Regions from separate parts of the Homo sapiens genome. Here region 2 is linked to region 1. The links come from fine-mapping of genetic effects on gene expression. Tissue or cell type: whole blood. Region 1 holds a variant in brackets; the other region holds the start of a gene. All regions are shown on one strand. Distances are from middle to middle.

Evidence for each region. PIP is the estimated chance that this variant, and not a neighbour inherited with it, causes the effect.
Region 2: it holds the start of C2orf92, and the variant in region 1 is fine-mapped to the expression of C2orf92 in whole blood (TwinsUK, PIP 0.95).

The regions. Positions count from the first base shown.
Region 1 is chr2:96,886,401-96,894,503 of GRCh38, forward strand. FAM178B (family with sequence similarity 178 member B) reads right to left here. Exons shown (of 17, transcript NM_001122646.3): 14 at 7,526-7,651. Among named protein-coding and RNA genes, the nearest start is that of SEMA4C, 20 kb to the left of the region's middle. RefSeq lists an enhancer at 1,202-1,757 and a silencer at 4,492-4,786. The variant C/CAAAT (reference allele first, on the strand shown) is at 3,277.
Region 2 is chr2:97,665,933-97,674,035 of GRCh38, forward strand. It overlaps C2orf92 (chromosome 2 open reading frame 92), which reads left to right and starts at 3,781. Exons shown (of 8, transcript NM_001351368.2): 1 at 3,781-3,902. The coding sequence starts at 3,857.

The sequences.
Region 1 (8,103 bases):
GTTAAAGGATGAGGAGACCCAGGTAGAGTGTTAGGTTAGAAGCTGAGTCACTTGCCTAGGGCTGCTGAGGGAAGGCTGTTGAGCCTGGAGGAGGGGAGAGCCTGCCTGGGAAGGCGCCAAGGGCCAGAGCCCGGAGGAGGAGGGTGTGACACTGAGGTTTTTTGACACTGTTTAGCCCTTGGGTCCCTCTAAGTCTGATGAACTGTCCCAGGGCTTTCCAGGATTTGTGTTTGTGTTTCCGTCACTAAAAACTCCTGGCAAAGACAGGGAAGAAGGGACAGAAAACGTGATGCGCAGAGAGCACTTGAGAAGGCCATGGTCGGCCTGGGAGCTGTTCCTGCAGACTGAGGATGGCGTGTAAGGGACCTTCCCCACTGTGCTTGGCCGTCTTCGGTGCACAGCTGGGAGCCTCAAACACTGCAGCCTTGAACTTCTGGGCTCAAGCCATCCTCCCGAGTAGCTAGGACCATAGGCGTATGCCACCGTGTCGTGTTAACACCAAACCTGGCTCATTTTTAAAAAAAAACCTTTTGGCCGGGCGCGGTGGCTCACGCCTGTAATCCCAGCACTTTGGGAGGCAGAGGCGGGCGGATCACGAGGTCAGGAGATCGAGACCATCCTGGTTAACATGGTGAAACCCCATCTCTACTAAAAATACAAAAAAATTAGCCAGGCGTGGTGGTGGGCGCCTGTAGTTCCAGCTACTCGGGAGGTTGAGGCAGGAGAATGGCGTGAATCCAGGAGGCGGAGCTTGTAGTGAGCCAAGATCATGCCACTGCACTCCAGCCTGGGCAACACAGCGAGACTCTATCTCAAACAACAACAACAACAACAACAACAAACCGTTTGCAGAAATAAGGTCTCGCTATGTTGTGCAGGGTGGTCTATGAACACCTAGCTTCAGATGATCCTCCTGCCTCAACCTCTGAAAGTGCTGAAATTACAGGCTTGAGCCACTGTATCTAGACAGGGTGAGGCATTTCAGGGGGAGCCATGGGGGTTGTGCCTGAGGTGAGACTCTGGATTGACCCTAAAAGGTAGCTGTTCAAGTATGTGAAGCAAGATGTAAACAAGCCACGGGTTGAGCCATGCCCGTAGCAATCCAAGGACGGGAGAGACAGTCTGGGCTCCGCAGGAAGGAGGGACAGCAGGAGCAAAGACGCGGCGTTGAGAACAGAGCGTTTCTGGGAGAGCATCACTGCTTGGATTCAAATGTCGCAGTGTGATGTGCAGCAGTGAAGCCATGCATTGGGCCAGCTGGCGGAGGCTCTGGATTGCAGTTTCATACGATGTGACAGGCACTAGAGTCTATTTTCCTAACTCAGAACGAGAAGAAGATAATCCACAGCGTTGTCCAGGAAGAGTTAAAGGATGAGGAGACCCAGGTAGAGTGTTAGGTTGGAAGCTGATGAGTCACTTGCCTAGGGAGAGAGGCCCCGAAGGGTCTCCGGGAGGACTGGGCCTGGGTGGGGTGGGGCAGGGAGCAGGCCCGGGTGCTGCCAAGGCCCTGAGCAAAAGCTGGCTGAAGAATGCAAGCCTGCCTCCGCAGCTTAACTCTCTCACTTCAAGCCTGCCTCCGCAGCTTAACTCTCTCACTTCAAGCCTGCTCGTACACTTGCAAAGAAACCAGAATTTCTGGGACCCAAACAAAGCTGGCCTGAGCCTGGGCCCTGCCTGGCTTTGGGATGCCCAGAAGTACTGGCCTGTCCCCAGATCTGTAGAGGTCCCCCTCTCCTGGAGGGTCAGCTTCCCAGAGGCCATCTCTTTGAGGTTTATTTTTAAAGATGTCTGATGTTCTGTACTTTGGAGGAAGTAAGACAGAACCAACCACAGATTAGACAGGAGAGGAACTCACAAGTTCTGAATATCCATTTTCTGTTCCTCAAAACCAGTCGGTTTCCTCCCAGCCCTCCTGACCTTGGCCTGACCAAGGTCCCCAGCCCAGTGGGGCAGTAAGGAAGAGACAGACACTTCCAGGTGGGAAGGCAGAGAGCATGGCGAGAATGGAGAAAGAGGCTCCACCTGCCTTTCAGGGGGACAGAGGGTAAGTGGCCTGTGCCCAGGGGAACACATGTCCCATTGCTGGAGTTGAGCATGCCAGCAAGAGAGGGCAGAGGCAAGCACACAGCTGCCAGAGGGCAGCGGCCCCCTCCCTGCCTAGCCCTGCAGTGAGAGCCAGGCCTTTCTCCACAACCTCCCATTAAGGCGGCCCTTGGCAGGGTCACCCAGCACAGGGACAGACAACTGCAGTTACAGCAGCGGGAGCGAAGCAGTAAAACTTGTTTGCCAACTCTATCAACACACGCGGCACACCACAAGGATATACAGGAGATGTGCACAGCACGCACTTATGCACAAACACACAGCAGAGGCCACACCCTCTGCAGAACATGAGCAGAGCTACTCAGAATGAGCATGAACGCAGTGGAGTTGGCACAGCTGGGCTGAGTTTATCCCAGAGCATCACCCAATCCCTGGAGCACACCCCCCCTCCCCGCCAACAACTCCATTCTGTACAAATGCACTTCTCCAATAAACAAGCCACACATCCCCAGGCCTCAGGAGCATGAGCTGGGGACCTTAAGTGGTGTGCACCTCGAGAAAGCTGACTAGAGCCACTCGCGCTCAGTCGGGGGCCTTGATCTGGGTGGTGCCCCCGCAGGGACCATAACAGGTGCAGAACCCACAGACTGCCCCTTAGCTGTTATCCACTGGGGACATCATCTGGCTGGGAGGAGGACATGCCCAGAGGGCAGCTGGGGAGATGGGGACCAGGCTCCTGGTGCCTGACTCTGCCCCAGCTCTGGGACCATCCCCCTTTGTGGTCCTTAGTTTCTTTCCATACAATGGGAAATAATTAACAACTTCACAGTCCCCAAATTTAACCAACCGGGAGAAAAACTTCCATCCCACCATAAAGATCCTTGTACTATATGCCTCCCAAATCCCTAAGGGGAAAAACAGAATTAAAAAACCTCATCAATAGAACATCAGTAGGCCCGGTGCGGTGGCTCATACCTGTAATTCCAGCACTGTGGGAGGCCGAGGCAGGTGGATCACCTGAGGTCAGGAGTTTGAGACCAGCCCGGCCAACATGGTGAAACCCCATCTCTACAAAAATACAAAAATTAGCCGGGCATGATGGTGGGCACCTGTAATCTCAGCTACTTGGAAGGCTGAGGCAGGAGAATCGCTTGAACCTGGGAGGCAGAAGTTGCAGTGAACCAAGATTGTGCCATTGCACTCCAGCCTGGGTGACAGAGCAAGACTCTGTCT[C/CAAAT]AAATAAATAAATAAATAAATAAATAAATAAATAAATAAATAAATACAAAAAAAAATAGAGCATCAGTAGAGCAAAAAGAAAAGCAAGAAATGATAAGGAAGTGTGGTAACGAGGAGTATAATATGCAATAGCAGGTTTTGACAGCCAAAATATCAATAATCTCGATGGAATTGAATTGGGGCCCGTTGAGATGGCTCATGCCTGTAATCCCAGCACTTTGGGAGGCTGAGGTGGGAGGACTGCTTGAGCTCAGGAGTTTGTGACCAGCCTGGGCAACGTGACAAAACCCCATCTTTATTAAAAAAAAAAAAAAATTGGCTGGGCGTGGTGGCTCACACCTGTAATCCTAGCACTTTGGGAGGCCGAGGTGGGCAGATCACCTGAGGTCATGAGTTCGAGACCAGCCTGGCCAACATGGCAAAACCCGTCTCTACTAAAAATACAAAAATTAGCCAGGCATGGTGGCACGCGCCTGTAATCCCAGCTACTTGGGAGTCTCAGGCACGAGAATCGCTTGAACCTGGGAGGTGGAGGTTGCAGTGAGCCGAGATCCAGTCAGTCACTGCACTCCAGCCTAGGCGACAGAGCAAGACTCCGTCTCAATCAATCAATCAATCAAGCAATATAAATAAATAAATAATTAGCCCGGTGTGGTAGCATGTGCCTGTCCCAGCTACTTGGGACGCTGAGGTAGGAGGATCTATTGAGCCTGAGAAGGCGAGGCTGCAGTGAGCCTTGATGGCGCCACTGCATTCCAGCCTGAGCAATAGAGTGAGACAGGCCCTGTTTAAAAAAAAGAGTGAATAGGCCATGACCTCCATGACCCTGAGCCCTGAGGCTGGATAGAACACACCAGAAAACATCTGGCCAGATATGGTTTATACAAGTCAGCTACGAGGAAATAAACTGCCCCAAGAAGACCCTGGTTCTGGGTTGGTGGGCTCAGGTGGTAGCTTGGAGAGACAGTGGCAAATTGAGTCAAGTTATGCAATGTTTTTCTGCCTGCGGCCAAAAGAACAGTCTCCCTTGATTGCCTGGGAAGGCAACTGGGGCGAATTGGTATCCATGGGCCAAAGGGAGTACTTAGAGGCCAACTCTAAGTATTAAACTCTCCTGTGTTAACTCTCCCACAGGAAAACACCCTCTACCACTGTCAGCCAAATAAGCCCTCTGCCTCTCACATGGCTGTACCAGACCCCCAAGCATCACTCCAAACCAGATGTTTACTCTTCTCTGAGAATAAAGCCCAGATCAAACCAGGCATGCACAGGGCCATAGATAACCAAAAGCGGCTCAGCTTTGTTTTCTTTATCCAGAAGCTCTTCAAAATGCTAAAAACGTTATCAGCTCACTAAGCGGGATAGTCCACAGAAGCTCTTATAGTCCATATAAGCTCTGCCTGCTCAGCTAGGACTGTGGTCAAAGCCAGGACACACGGCCAGTGCAGGCATCTATGTTGCCCCTGATTCACTCCAGTTCCTGACCCCCATGCACAGCTGCAGCAGGAGCTCATGGCTTCCTTTGCTGAAGTACTTGGTGCTTTCCCAGGCAGGACCTCACTAGCTTATAATTACAAACGATGTGCTGGGATTGGTTCTGCCACATGCAGGTAATACTTCTTTAGTCCAGAGCCTCCTGCAGGAGAAGGCCAGGCTATAAGCTCTTGTGGCCTTAATGATACAAAGACCTTAAGAGACAAGGGGACCACGATGCAGAGGCTGGTCAGATGGCACACAGGAGGCAGCAGGTTTCCAGAATGGGGGCAGGAGAGCGAACAGCGAATGCCAGAACAGAATGGAAGAAGGGAGTTCAGAGAAGGACAAAGGAATTAAAACTGGATTCATTCGTTCACCTAGTGCCAAATGTGGGACGCAGTGCTAGAGACACTGCATGTGCCCACAGTCTAGCTGGACAGGGGGCAAGCAAAGGGACAACTTTACTTGCCAAGGGATCAGTGAGGAGAGAAAGTTGTGCCCTGGACACCAACAGCAGCTCTCTCAGCCTCTTCCCAGAGGGAGAGGCTGGGCCAAGGCCTGAGGCAGCCAGAGGAGGTGGGGAAGGAGCTGGGCAGAAGTGTTTATTTGCAGGGCTGGAGGAGGGCTGTGACCCAGCCGCACAGGGCAGGAAATCTCCCAGACAGGAGTGAGAGGGCCTGGGGGATGGGTAGGCGTCAAAAGGCAGAGGCTCAGCTCAGCAGCCCCAACGCTGGGAAAGTAGGCATTTCCTCCAGGCTGGGCCGCCTCAGGTCAACCCTACTCTGGCCTCAGTTTCCCCATGGCACTGAAGGGAAACGAAAAGGCAAAGACTTTGAGCTCTGGGGATGAAAGGCTCAGCCACGGCTCAGACCACCACTCCTTATAAAACAGGGTGGATGCCGCCGCTGTTGTTTTTGGCTGGTGAGTGGCCCATCTAACCTCTTTGAAGATGAAACATGCTGAGGCCTAATGAGGAGTCATCCGGCCGGGGTGGGAGTGGAGCCCAGTCACCTGCCCCACCTGGCCCCTCCCAGTCAGAACAGTGCCCAGCCCAGGGGACAGAACCCAGCCCAGGGGCCTGTTTCACACTTCTGTGCCCATGTACCCTCCTTGGCCTGGGGCTCCCTCACTCAGAGGCAGAGGTGTAGGGGAGCGCAGCAGAGGGGGTCTAAGGTGGTCTCGGGCTGCAGTGAAGGCTTCTGAGAGCTGCCTGGGACTCGCCTGCCTCTCCACTGCCCTGGACCAGTGCACCCTACCCCTTTGGGGCTCTGCCGAGCTGCACGGTGCCTCCATGTTTTCAGGCCAAACAGGTCATTTCCAATATGGCGGCCAACCAGGGGGAGGCTTTCAAACCTCCTTTAGGTGTGTGAGAATAGTCCTCTAAAGAAAAGGCATCCTCAGCCTGCTCACTGTCCCTCTTCCCCAGCTGTTGAAAGAATGTCTTCTGCCACCTGGATAGCCTCTGTACCAGAGTGAGCCTGGCAGGAATCACACCTCTGCTAGGTGAGGCCCAGGACTGGCCCCCAAGGTGCCTGCAGGCCACACTCTCCGCTTAGCCAGACCAGACGTGACACTCTTTCCTCTCTCTCACCACTCGCCTTCTTGTTCCTTGCTCCCTGCCCAGGCCTCCCTGAGTTCTGTTTAGACAGACCACCCCAGGACTGACCCCCACCTCCTCTCTAGAGGCCCCATAACCAGCCCATAACCAGCTCCAGTTTCTGGGGAAATACTTGGCACAAGAGAAGGGGCATGCAGACAGCTCACGCTCTCCTGGGAGGCAGCAGCCTCATAAACGCACTAATATTAGGCACAACTGAAAGACAACCTTCCCCACATGTTCCAGAAGAGGAGCGTGCACCTGGGGATTAGCATATCTCTTTAATGGTTCATTTGTGTTCATTAAGTAATTAATTCATTTATCTGATTTGCAGAGTGATGCCCAAAGGTTGGACTTCTGTATCAACATCCAGCCTCCGAGTGAGTTTCTGGAATTACCATCTTCCCCAATTATAACGATCCCTATCTCCATTCTTCATTCCCGAGTCCCCAGGGGCAGCAGAGTACATCGAGGTTTAAGCCCTGCTCCCCAGGAAGCTGAGCCCGGGATGCCCACTCTGCAGCCCTCACACCCACCACATCCCTGCTCTGACATTCACCCAGGGACTCATAGGCCTCACTGTTCCAAACTCCACAACCTGCAGGCCCTGGGGCACCTTGTTGCTCCTGACTCCCACCAGAACTTGGCTTTCAGGAAAGCTGGGCAATGTCTGGAAAGTCAATTAGGAAGAACTGGGGACAGGCCAAGGACTCAGACTCAGTGACAACCACAGTGAAAATGAACAGGGAGGCTGGGCCCAGCTCTGCCTACAGAAGAAGGGATGCCCTGCACGTCGAGACAACCCTGCGCTTATCCTGATGTGCTCCCATCCCCTCCCTGGCATCCAGCTCCTGCATCCTCCCTAAACCATGCTGTAAGGCTGACAACCCCAGATCAACAAAAGGCACACAAGCAGGGACAGGCAGACATTTGGCCCCTACACCTGCGCACAGGGCGTCCCCAGCGCCTGCGGCACGGGTAACAGCACTAATTACAGGTGAGATGCTGAGCACCTCTGCTCAACACAGGGAGGCAGCCTGTTGGTCTCTGCCCTGGCATGGCCCTGGGGTTCTGGAAGGACCCGCAGGCCATGCAATGTGGACAGCCCTGCCTTTCCCTGCTACCTGTGGTGGTGGCACCGTGGTGGAGGCAGGCGGGTGCTGGGTGCTCACTCACCTTGTGGTCTAGCTCGGCACTAGCCTTTGGCTGTTGCTCCTGGCAGGGTGGCAAGGGCACAGAGTCCAGGTATTGCCTGAGAGATGATGGCCTCATGAGGCCCAGGAGCCGGCTGAGCGAGGACAGCTGGGGAGGAGAAGGGAGGCTGTCACTCACAGAGGGTGGTGGCCAAGAGCTCAGGGTGCTCCCGGGAATCGGCCTGGACACCTCAGCTGGTGGCAGTGTGTTAGGGCACTGGCTTCTGAGACACAGACCCACCTCTACCTTATGAACTGTGGCCTCTCGGATCCTGAGTGTTCTCATCTGTAAAATGGATCACACATACTTCCCAGGAGAGGAGGGGTACCCAAACATACCCAGCTCCCCCACGCCCCACCCACACACACACAGACCCACACACACTCTTCCCCCCACAGACCTGACACCCACCCACTCACCCACCCACTCATCCTCCCCACACCCACACATACCCAGGCCTCCCACCCCCCACCCACTCACCCACGTACACACAGACCCACATCCACACCTACTCACCCCCTCCACAGACCCCACATCCACACCCACCCATTCACCCACCC
Region 2 (8,103 bases), 780 kb after region 1:
ACGCCCAGGTAATTTTTTTGTATTTTTAGTAGAGACCGGGTTTTGCTATGTTGCCCAGGCTGGTCTCGAACTCCTGAGCTCAAGCAGTCCACCCACTTTGGACTCCCAAAGTGCTGGGATTACAGGTGTGAGCCATCGAGTCCTGTAACTATAACTATCTTAAATCATATATTGTTAGGCAATATTGGAGCATCTGGACATTTTGTTGTTGTAGGATTTTGTCCTTGCAGGCATTACTAAACTGCTCTTTTAGCCATAGCATCTTATGACCATGGGTTGGGACTAGCAAGGAATGTGCCTTGCTAGTTTTAAGATGGAGTTGGGGCCGGGCGCGGTGGCTTATGCCTGTAATCCCAGCACTTTGGAAGGCCGAGGCGGGCAGATCACGAGGTCAGGAGATTGAGACCATCCTGGCTAACACGGTGAAACCCTGTCTTTACTAAAAATACAAAAAAGTAGCTGGGCGTGGTGGCATGCGTCTGTTGTCCCAGCTACTCAGGAGGCTGGGGTAGGAGAATCGCTTGAACCCAGGAGGCGGAGGTTGCAGTGAGCCGAGATCGCGCCACCAGCCTGGGCGACAGAGTGAGACTCCGTCTCAAAAAAAAAAAAAAAAAAAAAGATGGGGTTGAGATGGGCACGGTAGCTCATGCGTGTAATCCCAGTACTTGTGGAGGCTGAAGTGGGTGGATTGCTTGAGCCCAGGAATTTGAGACCAGCCTGGACAACATGGCAAAACCCTGTCTCTACAAAAAATACAAAAATTAGCCGGGCATGATGTTGTGCGCCTGTAGTGCCAGCTACTCCAGAGGCTGAGGTGGGAGGTTGGCTTGAGCCCGGGAGATGGAGGTTGCGGTGAGCCCAGATCGCACCATTGCACTCCAGCCTGGGTGACAGAGCCAGACTCTGTCTCAAAAAAAAAAAAAAAAAAAAAAGCAGTTGATTTTAAAATGGTGTCACCCTGTCTCTCCTAGGCTCCTGTTTTCCTAATAGCATGAACAGCCCCCCCGTCAGCTCCTACCCCTTGGTCTCTGACCTGTTCCTCCTCCGAGGTGACCTCTATCCTGAATTTTGAAAACATATTAGTATTGCCTGTTTCTGGACTTTGTGCAGATGAAGTCATTGGTATGTATTCATTTGCATCTAGTGTTTATACATTCATAAAATAGATCACTGTGTAGCCATTAAAAATAATGAGAGAGTGCTATATAATTTCATATGAAACATATCAGGACACATTGCTAAGTAAAAGCAAAGAGAAAGCAGACACCGAGTGTAGACTGTTATATGCATGAATGTCTCTGAACAGTATATGAGGCACCTTCAGGTCTCTTTTTTATTTTTTTTTTTTTTGAGACAATCTTTCTCTGTTGCCCAGGCTGGAGTGCAGTGGCGCAATCTGGGCTCACTGCAACCTCCACCTGTCGGGTTCAGGCAATTCTCCTGGCTCAGCCTCCCTAGTAGCTGGGATCACAGGTTCCCGCCACCATGCCCAGCTAAGTTTTTTTTTTTTTTTTTTTTGAGATGGAGTCTCACTCTGTCACCCAGGCTGGAGTGCAGTGGTGCGGTCTCGGCTCACTGCAAGCTCCGCCTCCCGGGTTCATGCCATTCTCCTGCCTCAGCCTCCCGAGTAGCTGGGACTACAGGCGCCCACCACCACGCCTGGCTAATTTTTTGTATTTTTAGTAGAGATGGGGTTTCACCGTGTTAGCCAGGATGATCTCGATCTCCTGACCTTGTGATCTGCCTGCCTCGGCCTCCCAAAATGCTGGGATTACAGGTGTGAGCCACCGTGCCTGGCCCCAAAGATGATTGTCTTATAAAAGCCTATGTAACCCTTTTCATTTTTTCTTTAAAAAATGTCTTCCTTTACCTCCTGGAACACATCCATACTTATTCCCATTGTAATGCCCGTTCCTGAATAAACATCATTGTTTTTTTAGAGAGGGAGAGAGAGTCCATTGGTGAGAGAGTCTCACCAATCTCCTGTCCCCAGGGCACTTCCACCCCTGGGTATTTGTACTGATCAACCAGGTTACGCTTTCAGCATTTGCAAACTCAGGATGGAGATTTTAGACCCTCTTCAACCTCCAGGTTTCCTCTTTGCAAAGGCCAGCAGCAGAAGCAAAAGAGATGGAGCCCGGGTTAGCATTTATTTTTCTATTTACCAGTCATTTGGAATTTGGACATTTTCTGTCCTGTGGTTGTGGTGAGGGTGTGGGTTTTGTGTTGTTTTATATATTCTTTGTTATTTTTTATTCTAGTTTTTGTTTTTGTTTTGGAAGGTATTTTAGAGAAATAAGATTTCTGTGGTTACCATGACCTGCTGTTACAGATTACATGGTACCCTCTCTTCATATGTTGAAGTCCTAGCCACCCCGCCGAACCTCAGAATGTGACTGTATTTGGAGATAGGGTCTTTACAGAGGAAATCAAGTTAAAATGAAGTCATTAGGGCAGGCCCTAATCCGATATGATCCTGTGTTCTTAGAAGAGGAAATGTGGACTCAGGTGTGTATGGAGGGAAGATGTCTTGCAAGCCCAAGGAGAAGATGGCCATCTGAGCCCACGTCCTGGAACAGAGACTTCCCTCACAGCCTCAGAAAGAACCAGCCCTGCTGACGTCTTGATCTCAGACCTCCAGCCTCCAGAACTGGGAGACGATTCAGTCAGCATCTACACAACACAGGGTTGAACTGTGCGGGTCCACTTCTATGCAGATTATTTTCTTTTTTCTTTTTTGAGACAGAGTCTCGCCCGGTTGCTCAGGCTGAAGTGTAGTGGTGTGATCTTGGCTTACTGCAGCTTCCACCTCCCAGGTGCAAGTGATTCTCCTGCCTCAGCTTCCCAAGTAGCTGGGACTATGGGTACTCGCCACCACACCTGGCTAATTTTTGTATTTTTAGTAGAGATGGGGTTTCACCATGTTGGTCAGGCTGGTCTTGAACTCCTGACCCCAAGTGATCTGCCTGCCTTGGCCTCCCAGATTGCTGGGATTACAGGTGTGAGCCACCGTGCCCGGCCCTATATAACTCTTTGTGCAAGTTTTTACCCCTAAAAGATATCTGCCATCTCAGCCATGGAACAGACACTGTAAGAACATGAAGGCTCAAGGGCAGGGCTGGCTACATAATTTGTGGGACCCATTACAAAATGAACATGGAGAAAAAACTAGAAAAAAGTGTAGTACAAGGTACTATAATAGATTTTTCCTTTGAAAACAGTTTAATACTTATAAAATGTAATAGAGGGAAATAGTGACACGTGAGTAACAAAATGGGCGTATCAATTGGTCTATGCTATTTTTGGTGTTATAATTTTACCTAATATAATAAGCAGCAACACTTTGTTAGTGAGACGGGCTTTCACCATGTTGGCCAGGCTGGTCTGGAACTCCTGACCTCAGGTGATCCGCCTGCCTCAGCCTTCCAAAGTGCTGGGATTACAGGTGTGAGCCTCTGCGCCCGGCTGTGATGTCTTGATTGATCATAGGATTTTTCTGGCTATTCTAGCTACTTCCAATTCGCTTCAGCCAATTTAGTTGAAGTTTTATCACTTGTGACTTCAGAGTCCTGGTTAATATCCTGTTGCCCTCAGGACATGCAGGATGGAGGAAGGCACCAGGGAGCCGAGGGAAGTGAGCAGAGAGGCAGTCACTTCAGGGCCACCAGCATAGCCCCCGTCACTGTCCACAGACACAGGCCCTTCCCCTTCTCATGGTTGAGCAGGCTCCACCTCACTTCCGTGTATGACTTCATAGACCGTTAGGTTCCGTGGTACCCTGGAGTCCACAGCTGCTGAATCTGAAGGGCCATCAGAAGACTGGCTTCTCCATGATGGTTTATGGACTAAGGCAAAGATGAGCAGAGCCATGGCCCTCTTCTTTGTTCTCTGCTGGATCCAAGGTATATTGCTGTGGCAGCTGGAGAGAAACATGGGCCTCACTTCAAGCCTAAGTGGGGCAGAGGAGGGCGTTCCCTCCCACAGTGTGGGGAACACAGATGCTTTACCTACTCTACCTTCTATACCTCCCCAAATCTGCCATTCAGGGTTTATTACTTGGGGGAAGGGAGTAACTGAAAACATTTTCCTAACTTTGAAGCTTTCTCAAAATTCAGAGCTCTATAGGAGGGTGGCATACATGCGTATTTTAACTTTTCACTGTAAGCATTTCCAAACATATGCAAAAGTAGAAAGATTAGTATAAAGAACCACCATATGCTAACTAACCCTCCTGATTTTATCTATATATATGCACTATTTAAAAAATAACAGGGTTAGGCCGGGTACAGTGGCTCACTCTTGTAACTCCAGCACTTTAGGAGGCCAAGGCAGGAGGATTCCTTGAGCTCAGGAGTTTGTGACAGGCCTAGGCAACATCATGAGAGCCTGTCTGTATAAAAAATTTTAAAATTAGCCATGCATGGTGATGCGTGCGTGTGGTCCCAGCTACTAGGGAGGCTGAGGTGGGATGATCACTTGAGCCCAAAAAGTCGAGGCTGCAGTAAGCCGTGATCACACCACTGCACTCAAGCTTGGGCAACAGAGTGGGATCCTGTCTCAAAAAAAAAAAATTAGTAATAACTTTATAGGATATAATATATAATAAAATTCACCCTTTATTTTATTTTTCTATTTATTGTTATTATTTTTGAGATAGGTTCTCCCTCTGTCACCCAGAGCTGGAGTGCGGTGGCATAATCACAGCTAATTGCAGCCTCAACATTCCAGGCCCAAGGATCCTCCCTTCAGCCTTCCAGGTAGCTGGGACCACAGGCATGTACCACCACACCCAGCTAATTTTTTAAATTTCTGTAGAAATAGGGATCTCACTATGTTGCCCAGGCTGGTCTCAAACTCCTGGGCTCAAGTGATCCTCCTACCTTGGCCTCCCAAAGTGCTGGAATTACAGGCATGAACCACTATGTCTGGCCAAATTTACCCTTTACAAAGTATATAATTCAGTGGTTTTTAGTATACTCATAGAGTTGTGAAGCATCACTATCTAATTTTATTTAATTTTTAATTTTTTAATTTTTTGAGATGGAGTGTCGCTCTCTCACCCAGGCTGGAGTGCAGTGGCGCTATCTTGGCTCACTGCAACATCTGCTTCCCAGGTTCAAGTGATTATCCTGCCTCAGCCTCCCAAGTTGCTGGGATTACAGGCGTGTGCCACCACGCCTGGCTAATTTACTAAACTAATAAATTACTAAATTAGTAAGTTACTAGTAAATTAGTAATTACTAAAATATAATTTTTAGTAGAGATGGGATTTCATCATGTTGGCCAGGCTGGTCATGAACTCCTGACCTCAATGGATCCTCCTGCCTCAGCTTCCTGAGTAGCTGGGACCACAGGTGCACACCACCACGCCCAGGTAATTAATTTTTATTTTTTGTAGAGTCGGGGGTCTCCCTATGTTTCCCAGGCTGGCCTCGAACTCCTGACCTCAAGTGATCCTCCCACCTCAGCCTCCCCGAGTGCTGGGATTAAAGACGTGAGCCACGGCACCTGGCCTGAATTTTCCTCAAATTCAAAAAATCCTGATGAAGGTTTGGCTAAAATCTTTGGTGAGTTACCCCACTCCCTGTGGAACCTCAGGCTGGATTTGAAGAGTTGCGTGCATGGTCCTCATTGTCTCCCAGGTAACCTGTTCCCGCTGCTGTGAAGGGAAGGCAGGTGCTCTTCCTTGAGGCTAGAATCTGTCTACGTGTCACAGTCTCAGGAAATTAAGCAAAACAGATGATAAACACCTCAAAAGGACCCTACTGAGCATCAGTGGAGCAGAGCAGGGCCATGTGGGACTGCGGCGTCAGATGCCACCTCACACTAGCTGTGACACACCTGCCTCGCCAGTTTCTGCTCTGAGGCCCCAAAGCCGAGCTGAACCTCCTCCAGGGGTTCTCAGCCCTAACTGAGCATGAAAACCCCTGGGGCAATCCTCTTTTTAACAATTGAGACATTCCACACACACCCCACATCAGATTTTGGGGTGTGGGGATAGACCTTCACATTTGTAGTTTTCTAACCCTCCAGGGGACACTAGGCTGAGACTCATTGGTCTCCACTCTGAACCTTCCACTGAACATGTGAGAAAAACTAAGGCCCAGGGAAGTCTTTAGCAGAGAGCTGAGACGGAGAAAAGGGTTCTGAACCACAGCTGTCTGCTGAAGGAAGCTGTCCAAAGGCCAGTGAAGTCTCTCCTGAGGGTGCCTGGGCTGTGCATCAGGAGTGAAGGTTGAGGGTCACCTTAGGTGTGAGAAGGAGCAACTGGGAGAGTGGCGCTGATGCTTCCCCCCGGGTTAGGAGGCATTTGGATCACAGAGCGATGCCTGTTCATTCCTGCTTGCAAGGGAGCAGATCTCTCGACACCCGATGGGCCTCTATTCCGTTCCGGCAGCTGTCCGTGTCAGGAGCGCTGGGCTTGCTCCTCCCCACGGGAGCCATCACAGAGGCCTCGGGCAGTCTGCATAGACAACTGCCTGGCAGGTGACCAGGAGGGGATGCATGAGCAGATGCAGGTAGCACTCGCAGTCCCCCTAGCTGTGCCCTCAGCACCTGCTGTCTAGGAGGCAGAAGCCTTGTTCTCGGCCTTGCAGGTGACCCCAGTGTCTCTGAATTCGGCCCCATATGTGTAGGAGGGGAGTGATTGCATCTGAAGATGGGAGTCTGGTTGGGGGTTTGGGAAGCTCCCATCACCCCTCAAGAGTCCACTGACCAGCCCAGCTCACACCAGGTGGGCCTTGGCACTGGAGGCCACGGCTCAACTCTGCAGTTCCCTCTGGGCAGCATTTCCAGGGACTCGTAGGTCAGCATGGTCATCAAGGACAGGTGGTGAGAGCAGCTCCTCATTGTCCTGGTGACCCCGATGGTTCATTTTCTGGTGTCTCTGTGGTGAGCTCCTGTTACATCAAGCGAGTGGAAACCACCGAGGACCAACAGCCCTGGAAATGCACTGAGAATGCAGGATGAGTGGGCTTTGTGAGGACTGTTTTCTGTGACTTAGCAAGGAAAGCCTGGAAGGGAAAGTAAAACTGCTTCTTCCCAGGGAAGCCAGAAACCTGAGAACTTAAAAGGGAAGGAGAACTTAATATATTTCAAAAATGTAACCCTTGTGAATTAGCAACAGCTTTATAAACAAAGAGATTTCCGAGCTTATAGAATCTATTCTGCTTTGTTTCTGCCCCCATGGCTCCTACCCCTGTTTTTGTGGGTACAATTTTCATATAGAACATTTTTACACAAGCTTCAAAACTCTCTGAGGACAGCTTTCCCCTTTGTGTCTGTCGGGTCCCAGGCAGTCACATCCCAGGAAGTGCTGGGGTTGGGCTCCTTGCTCCACATCCTTCTTCAGTGGCACGAAGCGTGGGGTGGAGTGTGTGAGTCATGTGTGATCTTGGTGTGGGCTATGGCTGGTCTGCAGCACCCCTTCAATGACTGCTTCAAGGGCTTTTCATGATGCTTGTAGCTCATGAGCTAGTGTTTCCTAGATGCTGTTTCCAGGTGTCTTGCATGTCACACACTGGCCTACCAGGGCTGGAGTGAGATCATGAGCGCCAGATTGTTGGTGAAGGAAGTTGACAGAGACATCGAATGTCGGTGAACAGGAGTGACCTTGGGTCTCAATAAATACTGTGGTCAACTGAATCCAGAACCCACCCTTACCAGCAGGGCCCACTTCTTCCCCAGCAGGCCGAGCTCTTCCCCTCCTGTCTTCCCTGGCCCTTGCTTTGTAGCTCTGTGTGGCTGTGTCATGTCTGGTTGTATCTGTATATACTTCTGCCTCTCCCGCTATCTAGATGGCTCGGGGAGGCACACCACACACCAGGTCACCTTCCTCTCTGAACCCCCAGCACCTCATACTGTTTCTGTGCAGAGATAAGGCTGGGTGAAAGCTTGTGTGAATGATCTGAAGTCTTCTACTCTAGGCCAGTCTCCAGGAGCATTATGATCTTTAGGAGGGTGGGCTTGGTTCCTCTGTACAATAATGGGTCATAAAACTGAGTGGTCAAGATCATCCCGGTGAGGGCAGTCCGTGTGTTGCCATAGTTGCTGTACCGGTTAAGAATGCACCTGGCTGCAATTTCCTGAAAACCTGACGTATAG